Regions from separate parts of the Homo sapiens genome. Here region 1 is linked to region 2. Evidence: fine-mapped expression QTL. A gene starts in region 2. The other region holds a variant in brackets. All regions are shown on one strand. Distances are between the middles of the regions. Region 1 overlaps RASGRP3 (RAS guanyl releasing protein 3). Region 2 holds the start of RASGRP3 (RAS guanyl releasing protein 3).

What was found. PIP is the estimated chance that this variant, and not a neighbour inherited with it, causes the effect. A credible set is the group of variants that fine-mapping cannot tell apart.
Region 1: its variant is the best candidate, but not a certain one, in a credible set for the expression of RASGRP3 in thyroid (GTEx, PIP 0.50).

Annotation. Positions count from the first base shown.
Region 1 is chr2:33,520,849-33,526,229 of GRCh38, reverse strand. It overlaps RASGRP3 (RAS guanyl releasing protein 3), which reads right to left. Exons shown (of 18, transcript NM_001139488.2): 7 at 4,128-4,275; 8 at 2,178-2,351; 9 at 1,682-1,798. Among named protein-coding and RNA genes, the nearest start is that of RASGRP3-AS1, 46 kb to the left of the region's middle. The variant T/C (reference allele first, on the strand shown) is at 2,384.
Region 2 is chr2:33,473,466-33,478,846 of GRCh38, reverse strand. It overlaps RASGRP3 (RAS guanyl releasing protein 3), which reads right to left and starts at 2,198. Exons shown (of 18, transcript NM_001139488.2): 1 at 2,140-2,198. RefSeq lists an enhancer at 2,543-2,862.

The DNA of each region.
Region 1 (5,381 bases), 47 kb before region 2:
TTTGATTTATCATCAGAGTAATTGCATCCTTCTAGTTTGTGATTAGTTCAGGAACTCAGGGTTAAGCCAATCAGTACATTGTATTACTCTGGCAACTGTTATTGGTCCAGGGATGGACCTAAGACCTGAGTTGGCTCAAAAGGTCTTTAATTCTATGGGTGAAGAGTTGAAGTGAGTAGTCTTCCCTATCTTCAACTTTCATGAACAAGGGAACGTAATTTTTCGGTTGCTACATACAGCCCAATTAGGAGAGAAACAGTTTGATGAAACAAACAAAAAAACAAAACTCTCCGATATTCAGAGGCGGGCGGAGCACCTGAGTCAGAGGTCTGATCAGACCGTGCCTGCTCTGTCTCTGGACTTCCAGGTATGTCCCCCAGGCTGGAGTGCAGTGGTATGATCCTGGCTCACTGCAGCCTCAAACTCCTGGGCTCAAGTGATCATTCCACCTCAGCCTCCCAAATAGCTGGGACTACAGGCACACACTGCCACACCTGGCTAGTTTTTTTTTTTTTTTTTTTTTTTTTTTTGTAGAGACAGGATCTAGCTATGTTACCCAGGCTGGTGTCGAACTCCTGGCTTCAAGCAATCCTCCCACCTCCACCTCCCAAAGTGCTGAGATTACAGGTGTGAGCCACCACGCCTGATGGACGATACATTTGCTTATTGTTTAATTGCTGTAGAAGTTTTTTTCTTTTTCTTTTAAACTCACAGCTAAAAGTGTCCTTATTGAAGTAGCAAAGTGCACTCTTATATGAGAATCTTTTCATAAGGATGAAATGCTCCTTTTTGCTCAAGAAGAAAAACAACTATCATGTCATGAAAATAAATGTGGCAGAAACGCTCAGTTTGGAAAATGATCACTGTTTCTAATATATATATATATATTCATGACAATTCAGTTATAAATCTGAGGATTTCTATACAAGGCCTATGTCTTCCCCTTTCTATCTTCTGATGTGCCCAACACAGTGTTATGAATAGTCATTCAATGACTTTATTTCAGGAGGTAGGGTAGGAACTATTTCTGTCTTATTTACCTTGTGTATCACAATGCCTATCACATAGTAGGACCAAATAGATACCTGTTGAATATTTACCACTACAATATGTTGAGTTTTTTTTTTTTTTTTTGGTTTTTTTTTTTTTGAGATGGAGTCTCGCTCTATCGCCCAGGTTGGAGTGCAGTGGGGTGATCTCGGCTCACTGCAAGCTCTGCCTCCCAGGTTCATGCCATTCTCCTGCCTCAGCCTCCCCAGTAACTGGGACTACAGGTGCCTGCCACCACACCCGGCTAATTTTTTTTGTATTTTTAGTAGAGACGGGGTTTCACCACGTTAGCCAGGATGGTATAGATCTCCTGACCTTGTGATCCGCCCGCCTCAGCCTCCCAAAGTACTGGGATTACAGGTGTGAGCCACCGTGCCCGGCCACCACTACAGTATTCTAATGGTATGTCAAAGCATTCTTCCTAGGACACTTACCACCACCTCCAACCTGTTTTTCCAGGTGGACTCAGCTGGTGTGGTTATTCCCTTTCTACTTTGTCCCCATTTATAACCTACCACTGGTTTAAGAGGAAAACTTTCCCACTCTGAGTGACATTTGTTAGGCGTATACTAAACCTGAACAATTTACAAATGCATTTTTTTACTTTTGATTAGGATCAAGTCTACTATACCTTTGTAACTTCTGAAGAAAGATGAGAATGGGTCTCTTTGAGGCGTGAAATGGAACTATGACTGAGGCCTCCCACCACTGCCATCAGGGTGTTAAAATTTTTGAGCTGAAGGAGCTTCTGCAATAAAAATGCATCAATGCTTTTTAAGGATTTTCAAATTATTCTAAACTTTCTGAATTACAAGTAAATTTATGCACAATTTTAATAACAAGAAGCTAAGGAAAACATTACATCAATTTAAAATGAAGCACAAATAGAATCAGAGAAATATATCTATTATTTCACAGAGAAATAGCTACATTAAATGCTTCTAAGCATTGCTTTCTGAAAGCAATCTTCTTGCATGACAAAAATACGATTTGTTCATTAGATATCAGCGAGTAGTTTAGTTGTCCGATGCCCTTATACTGTGAACGCCACATTTCCTCAATGACTTTTCTCAACAGAGTGAACGAACATCTAGAACTCAAGAACCCAGTCTGATTACCAGACATACCTTTGCAACATTGATAAACTTTGTGATGACTTCTGCCCTTTGCTGGGGGGTTGGTTTGCTAAGAACCATCAACTGGACCCACTTAGAGATTCCATTAAATAAAGCAATCGATCTTTCCAAGGTTGGATTATTCTCCAGGCAGCCATGGATGACATAGCTTTGGTAATCAGTGAACTAGGAAAGGAAGATTCAGAGACTCTGAATTA[T/C]AATAGAGCCTTTGTAAAATCAAAAATTAGAATATTGCATAGAAAAGGTGAGATATTGTTTCGTAACAACACAATTTCTTTTATTTCACATTTACAATGGCATCCTAAAAGTTTGAATATACATGTGTCTTTAAAATGTTATTTTGCTGCTTTTCAAACCCCACTACTCACCCCACGCAAAGACACCCACTACTACACATCACAGCTTTGGTGGGAGGAGAAAGAGGCAAGATTCAAAGTTGTATTCCAATGAGTTCAAAATTTACTAGGTGATAAGATTCACCTGTGGCACTTGGTAAAATGCTGGTTCCTGGGAACACTCTAGGTGTAAATGATCACTATCTTCAGAAGAAAAACCTAAGAATCTCCTTTTTTTTTTTTTTTTAACCGACTGTCGCTCTATTGCCAGGCTGGAGTGCAGTGGCGCGATCTCGGCTCACTGCAATCTCCGCCTCCCAGGTTCAAGCAATTCTCCTGCCTCAGCCTCCTGAGTAGCTGGGACTACAGGTGCAAGCTGCCACACCTGGCTAAATTTTTTAGTATTTTTAGTAGAGATGGGGTTTCACCACGTTGGCCAGGAAGGTCTCGATCTCTTGACCTCATGATCTGCCCACCTTGGCCTCCCAAAGTGCTGGGATTAAAGGCGCGCCCGGCCAAGAATCTCCATTTTTAACACACTGCTGGTGATTCCAATCAGGCAAGTTAAAGATATAACGGTATACAATAAAGACGAGGAAATGAACGTAAATATAATTATTTCAAGTTAGCATCAGTTGTAAAGTTGTTTCAAGAAAAAGAAGACAGAAGAAAAAAAATTAATTGAAGTAAGGCTGCTCTTTAGCAAGGCAAACACATTTTCAGAATGTTAGCATGGATGTCAAAAAATACATAAGAGCTTTCTATCATATAAACTGTGCAGGGGACTCCCATGGCCTGCCTGTGGGGAATTGTTAAGGTCCTCTCCAAGTAGGATTACTTAGTGAAAGAATCAGTCTTTCAGAAATTCATGCTTCTAACCAAGACAGTCTTCTTTGCACGCAATAATGTAATTCATTCTCTGACACCTTGGAAAAGGAGGAGGAGCGACTTCCCCACAGCTTGGCGAGACAAAGCAAAGTGGCTGGCTGATTGTGAACCAGTGTGGAAAATGTTTACCATAACGGGAGGAGAGAGAGCAGGAGGCTAAGAAATCACAGACCAGAGAAAGAAAAGGGGGAGTTAGAGAAGGAATGAGGCTCCATCAAGATGAGTAGGAAAGAAAAGTTTAATTCAGGATCTCTATCTCTGGGAAAGAAACAACCTGATGTTGAGATTCTCCTTAAAGTCTACAATTCCTATTTTCAACCTATACCCATAATTAGCCATTTATACAAATCCGAACCTAACTAAATATTTTTTCCCAAAAACGAAGGGCCTAGCAAAACATGTTCACTTGGGAGAAGTCAATGGAGCTAAATCAACCTTGAATGGTTAAATCTCCACTGACTGTTTAGAAAAATCACGCTTTAATCCTATGAAAGGAGACATTGAAAATAGCGACAGAAATATAGCTCCTGAGCCATAAAATAAAGACAGGATAATATTTATCTTTGGTTAAAAGGGATTGTTCCTGTGAATTAAGGGCACTTCTCCAGCAGAGCACAGTGATAGAAGCTGCCAACACTTCAGAGTATGAAAATGCAGCTCTTGGGAAAGTTGGCATGGTGGTTGTTATCCTTGGAAGAATAAATGTCAAGTTTCTTACTGAGATCCTTCTAAAAGATTTATGCTCCAGAAAAGTGAGGTGCTCAGCCAATTCAATGGGCTCCAGATGGTCAAACAGCAGACAGGCTTTTCCCTTCTTGGATACTTTTTTCCTCTGTGTGACTCTTCTCATCCAGTCATAGGAAGGACTATAAAAGAAGAGTGAGTCCGGTCAATGTGTTGAAAGCCCATTTCACTCAATGGAAGTTATTAACCTACTGACTCTGCAACTCTTGGCTTGCTTCCAGGGACTTGTGCAAAATACATGCCCTGTCTTTCATATTGGAAGAGAAAACCACTGACCAGTTGCCAACAGAACATAAACTTGCAGTTGTTTTTCCAGACAGGGTAGGTTTTGCACTGAACCATCCAGAATTTCTTACTTAGTGTCTTTGTGACCGGCAAGGTCTGGATCATACAGGAAAGGTCGGGGCTAGTATATAAATTTGGGAGTTTATCAGGATATAGGTGGTGATTTAAGACACATGGAAACCACTAGAAGCTGTGGTTCTCATACTTTAGTATAACATGAACTATCTGAAAAGCTTGTTATAAAGACAGAGGCCTGGGCCTCGCTGCCAGAGGTTCTGACTTATTAGGAATGATCCTGAATAATATGTATTTTCACCAAACATCCCTTATAATTCCTGGATCATTCACTATTGATTACTATTGAAGAAGTATTCAATAGTAATCGACAGTGGAAAACAGAGTAGACTATGAATACGTAACACACAAGAACAGACATTTGCAAGATGGATAGCCATATTTAGGATCATCAAATAGTCTTCCCTGTGCAAAGTTACCTAGTTGATATGAAAGTGGCCTAATTGCACCGGTTACCTAATAACTGAGCTAACCAGCTCCTGGCACATCTATGGTCAACCACCATAAGGCTGTTGTTCTGAGGCCAACCTCAGCAGCACCATGGTACAGAGCTTCTCAAGCTTGCATGTGAATCACTTGGGGATCTTTAAAGTGCAGATTCCAATTCAGGTTTAAGGTGGGGCCTAGAGGCTGCATTCCTAATGAGCTCCCAGGTAACGCCAATGCTGCTGGTCTGCAGACCACACTTTAATCAGTGAAGGTGTAAGAGACATTAAGTAGATTCAGACTCAGTAACTAACACTGAGCATCTATTGCATGCCAAATCCTTTCATGTGCTATCTTGTGTCCTTATTGAATGTTCATAATAATCTCATGAGAAAGGTATCGTCCACATTTTACAAATAAAAAAAACTGAAGCTTGGAGAGA
Region 2 (5,381 bases):
TAAGTGCACAATAAAAGTAAGGGATTGTTATTAGCGTTGAAATTATGATGGAAGCCTTGAGCTCTCTCTTCTGGCTCTGCACCGTAACTCCGATAAATTTGCTACAGTTTCCTCATCTTTGATACGAAAGAGTTAAATCGCACATTCTATCATTCCTATCCAGGTCAAAAAGTCTTTGAGTCAATGGATGTACTATCTGCAAGTAAAATCATTATTTTTTATTATTTTGCTATTAATATTTTGAAAAGGCATGGGTTTTTCAAAGGAGCCTGTTGGCTCTCAAAAATACAGCAGTTGGATAATTCAACTGCTCCCATTTAGACATTCCATTTTATTATGGGAGGCTCGATGATTCCGGAGACACAATTTCACCAGAGGGTTCTCTTCCACTATCAACCTGTGGAAAATCTGAAACTATACCAGGAACAAACTCCCTAAAGAATGACTCAGGAGGAACCCCCTCCCCCAGCAGTCAGACAGGGAAGTCACAGACCACATGGCCGCGGGCTGACCCAAGGACCTCACACAAATGCCATACCGAGGAACAGAGAAGTTGGGACTATTTTTCCTCATTGGCCACTCTACATTTTGTGGATTCTTCTACATTTGAAGGAAAAGAAGGTGGAGAACTTCTCAATGTCAGACTAGCCATTTGTTTAGACAGGGCATCCGAAACTGCTTCCATCAGAGAACATTGGTTGGTGCGGTACTCAAGACCCACTGTGCTGAGGGAAACTCGATCGCAGAAGTGCCGTGCCCTGGGTCATTTTTAATCCATTCTCCACAAACAACAAAGGATGGTAAGGGTGGGGAGAGAACAGTGTTCCCTCATGGCAGGGGGCAGAGGGCGAAAGAAAACCGTATAGCTTGAGCCTGTATGAGAATCCATTTGTCACACGAGGAAACAAGCGCACTCCAGGTTGTCCTAGGCTTATCACAAGCAAAACAACTATTTGGTGAGACTTCAAATAAAAACAGCCCCTCTCTGCCCACCCTCCTCAAGATCCACGCGATCTCCAGAAACAGGAACCTGTTTGGTTATCTCCCTGCAGCCTCTGATTCAAAGACCTGTCACTTTCAGAGCTTTACGTCATCAGTTTAGAGCTCTGCCCTCTCTCTTTTCCCCTTTTGCCTTTCCTCTGAAGCATTCTGTCTGGTGACTACCAAGGAAGGACAAAAGTCACCGAACAACAGCTCAGTTCCAGCATGGTGCCTGCTTTGCTGCTCGCCCAAGCGCAAGCACCATTACTGCTGAATGAACCTGAGAAGGAGCCGGTTCTCTCCGTAATTTGGATGCCAGGCCTCCCAGAGTTAATCATCAGCTGCAGGCAGCACTTTCCCAGTCAGGTCATAAACAAGGAAAAAACAGCCTGAGTATCACGAAAACACTAAAATAAGGAAGACCAGCGGCAACCGAACATTTTAAAGTAATGAAGGTGAAGGAAGACCAGGGGCAACTGAACATTTTAAAGTAATGAAGGTGAATTAGCTTGTTGGGGGGAAAAAAAGTCGCTATAAAATACAGCTTTCAATTAGTTGGAAACCATGCAAGAAATCTAAATATGATTTCTAATGTGAATCTAAATATTATTTTGTCAGTCTTCTATATTGCAGACAGTTCTACACAGTTAAATGAGATATTCTCAAAAATTGAATAGGAAAAATCAAATCAGCCATACAATAAATTCACAAGTTACTTTAAACAACTACGTTTTCAGGTTTCAGTGGTAGAAACAGATTAAAATCAAATCTAGTCATCAACTCACTTCAATGAAGTCTCTACTTCATAACCTGAACTTGACTTTGAACCTAAACACCATGGACTAGAAAAATCTTGAACACTGGGAAACAAACTTTCTGTTTCCTAGACAGGAATGAAGCCATATGCCCCATTCATCCTCAAAGTTACAAGACACGTTGCCGAAAATAACAGGTTCTAAAAAAGGGCTGTGAAAACACCAATGGCTGTTAACAGGTACAAATAAAATATCTCCTTCTATCGTGCCAGAGGGAAACCAAAATCAAAATCAAAAGTTGTTGGTGGCTTGCAACACACACACACACACACACACACACACACACACACACGGAGAGGGAATGAAAGAGAGAGAGAGAGAGGAAAGTTCTCCAGTTACTTACTAGGGTGGTTTTGTCGTGGTATTTTTCACATCAGCACTCTGCCTGTCCAGCTGCCAAGTGCCGGAGCACGCCGAGAGCAGCTGTTTCCTTCAAGCTGGGGCTCTGAGTCTTAACCAGTCACATGTACCTCCTGATAAATACCGCCCGCCACCGTGCCAGGAGGTCAGAAACTGAAGATCATTCTTCTCCTCACTCGCAAACCACCTCATAACCCCTGAGTTGGCTCAGCCATCTCATGAGCATGCAGAGCGGGATATTCCACAATTTGTTTTCCTTTAGTGACAAAAGCCAAACAGCTGATAAGTCACACTGAAGGGCAGGTCACTGCAAGTGGAAAGTTAAATGTGTTTGCGTGTGTGTGTGCGCAGAGGGGGAGACTGGCAGGCTCCATGCTCTCTCATCTCACTCAAGTTTCACTGGGGCTCTCGAACGGCAAGAGAGAGGATCACCAACTCGCACAGCAGGTGGAAGTTGCTCTGTGTTAACCCCGGAGTACAACTGTTTGGTTTCGTTTTCTCAGAATCTCAGGCTCCAGTTTGTTAGACGAGCCACAAGCCTGACTAGGTGGCTGGTGCTGGGGAAGGCAGACCCTCACTCACCATCTAAGAATGCTTAGGTTGGACTTCAAAGGCCGGGGCTGCTAAGCCAAGGGACGCTGAGGGGCAAATATGGGAGGGGTTAATGAAGACTATCAAAGGCAGCTTTATCTGAAGAGCTCTTGGAAGTGATTTCAGGTAGCTTTAGACCAAACTTCCGCATTGTTATCTGTTGAATTGCATCGAGCAGCTGAGATTATCAGCCGGCGAGTGTGAATGCAAACAGAAATTATCACCAAGTTGACAACGCGCTTTACAGACGCACTACTGCCCCCTTTGGTGTGCTGGGAACTTGGAGCAAACTGCCGTTTTCTGTGCTGCTCGCAAACGTGGCAAACCATCCCTGATGTTTTGTTGAATTCATATGTCTCACCTGAGCTGATGTTCCCACCCTTCCCTTTTCATCCTCCCTTCCAAGGAAAGCCCTTGAAGTATCTGACTTTACGTAGTGTCTGACCTTGGATGTCTGACTTCTTGGTATAGTAAGGGTGACACTTCCCCGAATCAGTGTCTGAGCCTGCCCTTCAGGTAGAGATATGACATAGAGGCAGCCTATTTGGCAAAGTGAACATCCAGAAAAGATGGTTGAAGTCCCCCAGGGGATTTCTGAACCATAATGTGCCTGTTAAACTATTAACCCTGATTTTTAACACATAATATCTTACTCAGTGTAAGAGCCTGTGTGAGTAATCTTTTATATTTAGGCTTTGTCTCATAATTATTTACAGTGTTAATCAAACCAGAAATTTCCCTCCATATAGAGGATACAGTGTTTTCTAGAATAAGAGAAAAAGACAAAAAACCCTCAGTCTCACCATACTATCAGGGCAGTAATTTGTTGTCAACTTGTGAGAGTCCGAAGAGCAAATGGGAGAATTTTGTAAGCACCAAAACAAATCCCTTCCTCAGCATTTCAAGTTAGTAATAGAAATAAACTTCAGATATAAAAATGCAATGCATAAAATACACATTTCCCTCACAGGCATTTTTGTTTATGTGTTGATGTGACAATCTTCAATTAGAAACAGAAAAAGAGGCCTACTGAGGATTTGAAACATTATTTTGATTTACTTACCCCCTTGTATTTACAGTAATAGAAACTTTTGTGATCTGATGGCATCCATCCATCACTTTGTTTACCATTGACTGGGTTAATTATTCTGATGATCCATTGCATGCCACATAAAGAAACAGGGACTTCTAGAAACTCTTCAATGCCCAACAGCGACAACAGCCTCAGGAAAGTTAAGTTGTATTAGTCCATTCTTGCATTGCTATAAATACTTGAGACTGGGTAATTTATAAAGAAAAGAGGTTTAATTGGTTCATGGTTCTGCAGGCTATGGAGGAAGCATGATACTGGCATCTGTTCGGCTTCTGGGGAGGCCTCGTGAAACTTACAATCATGGTGGAAGGCAAAGTGGGAGCAGATGAGTCACATGGCCAGAGCAGCAGCAAGACAGACAGGGGGCACTTCTAAATGACCAGCGCTTGCCAGAACTCACTATCAGCTGGGTGTTGTGGCTCATGCCTATAATCCCAGCACTTTGGGAGGCTGAGGAGGGTGAATCACCTGAGGTCAGGAGTTTGAGACCAGCCTGGCCAACATGGCAAAACCCTGTCTCTACTAAAAATACAAAAATTAGCCGGGCGTGGTGGTGTGCTTGAACCTGGGAGGCAGAGGTTGCAGTGAGCCAAGATCAAGACCGCACCACTGCACTGCACTCCAGCCTGGGCAACAGAGTGAGACTCTGTCTTAAAATAAACAAATAAATAAAAGAACTCACTCACTATCATGAGAACAGCACTAACAGGATGGTACCAAACCATTAATGAGAAATCTGCCCCTAAGATCCAATCACTTCCCACCAGGCTCCACCTCCAACACTGGAAATTACATCTCAACATGAGATTTGGGTGGGCACAACATCCAAACTACATCATAAGTGTAAAGCAGGAGTCCCCAGCCCCCATGCCATGGACAGGTACCTGTCCATGGTCTGTTAGAGGCCAGGCTGCACAGCAGGAGGTGAGCAGCAGTCAAGGGAGCATGACCATCTGAGCTCTGCCTCCTGTCAGATCAGCTGTGGCATTAGATTCCCATAGGAGCATGAACACTATTGTGAACTGTGCACGCGAGGGATCTACACTGCATGCTCCTTATGAGAGTCTAATGCCTGATGATCTGAGGTGGAACAGTTTCATCCTGAAATCATCTCCATCCCCTCATTCCCGGTCCATGGAAAAATTGTCTTCCATGAAACTGGTCCCTGGTGCCAAATACATTAGGGACCACTGGTGTAGAGGTTCTTTTCTAGTTCTATAGCCAGGAGAGGAAGGGATGGATCCTCAATCCTCCCTATGAAGCAAACTGTTAACACAGAGGCCAAGACCCAGGACCCTTTCAGTCAGAGTCCAGGAGTGTGACTAAAGGTTCTACAATAACACAGCCTTGCAAAGAAATGGGGGAGATCCCATCTTTCTGCCCACACTCCCTACCAGTTCCAAGCATTGTCTTCGACTCAAGAAGAGGTGCCCTCTTCCTGTCAAGAGGCCACCTCCTACCTCGGCTTTGTGTCTCACCCTGTGTCTCCCACCTGCTTAGGACTCTCGACAACAACCACGCCTTCTCTTGCTCTCAGCGTG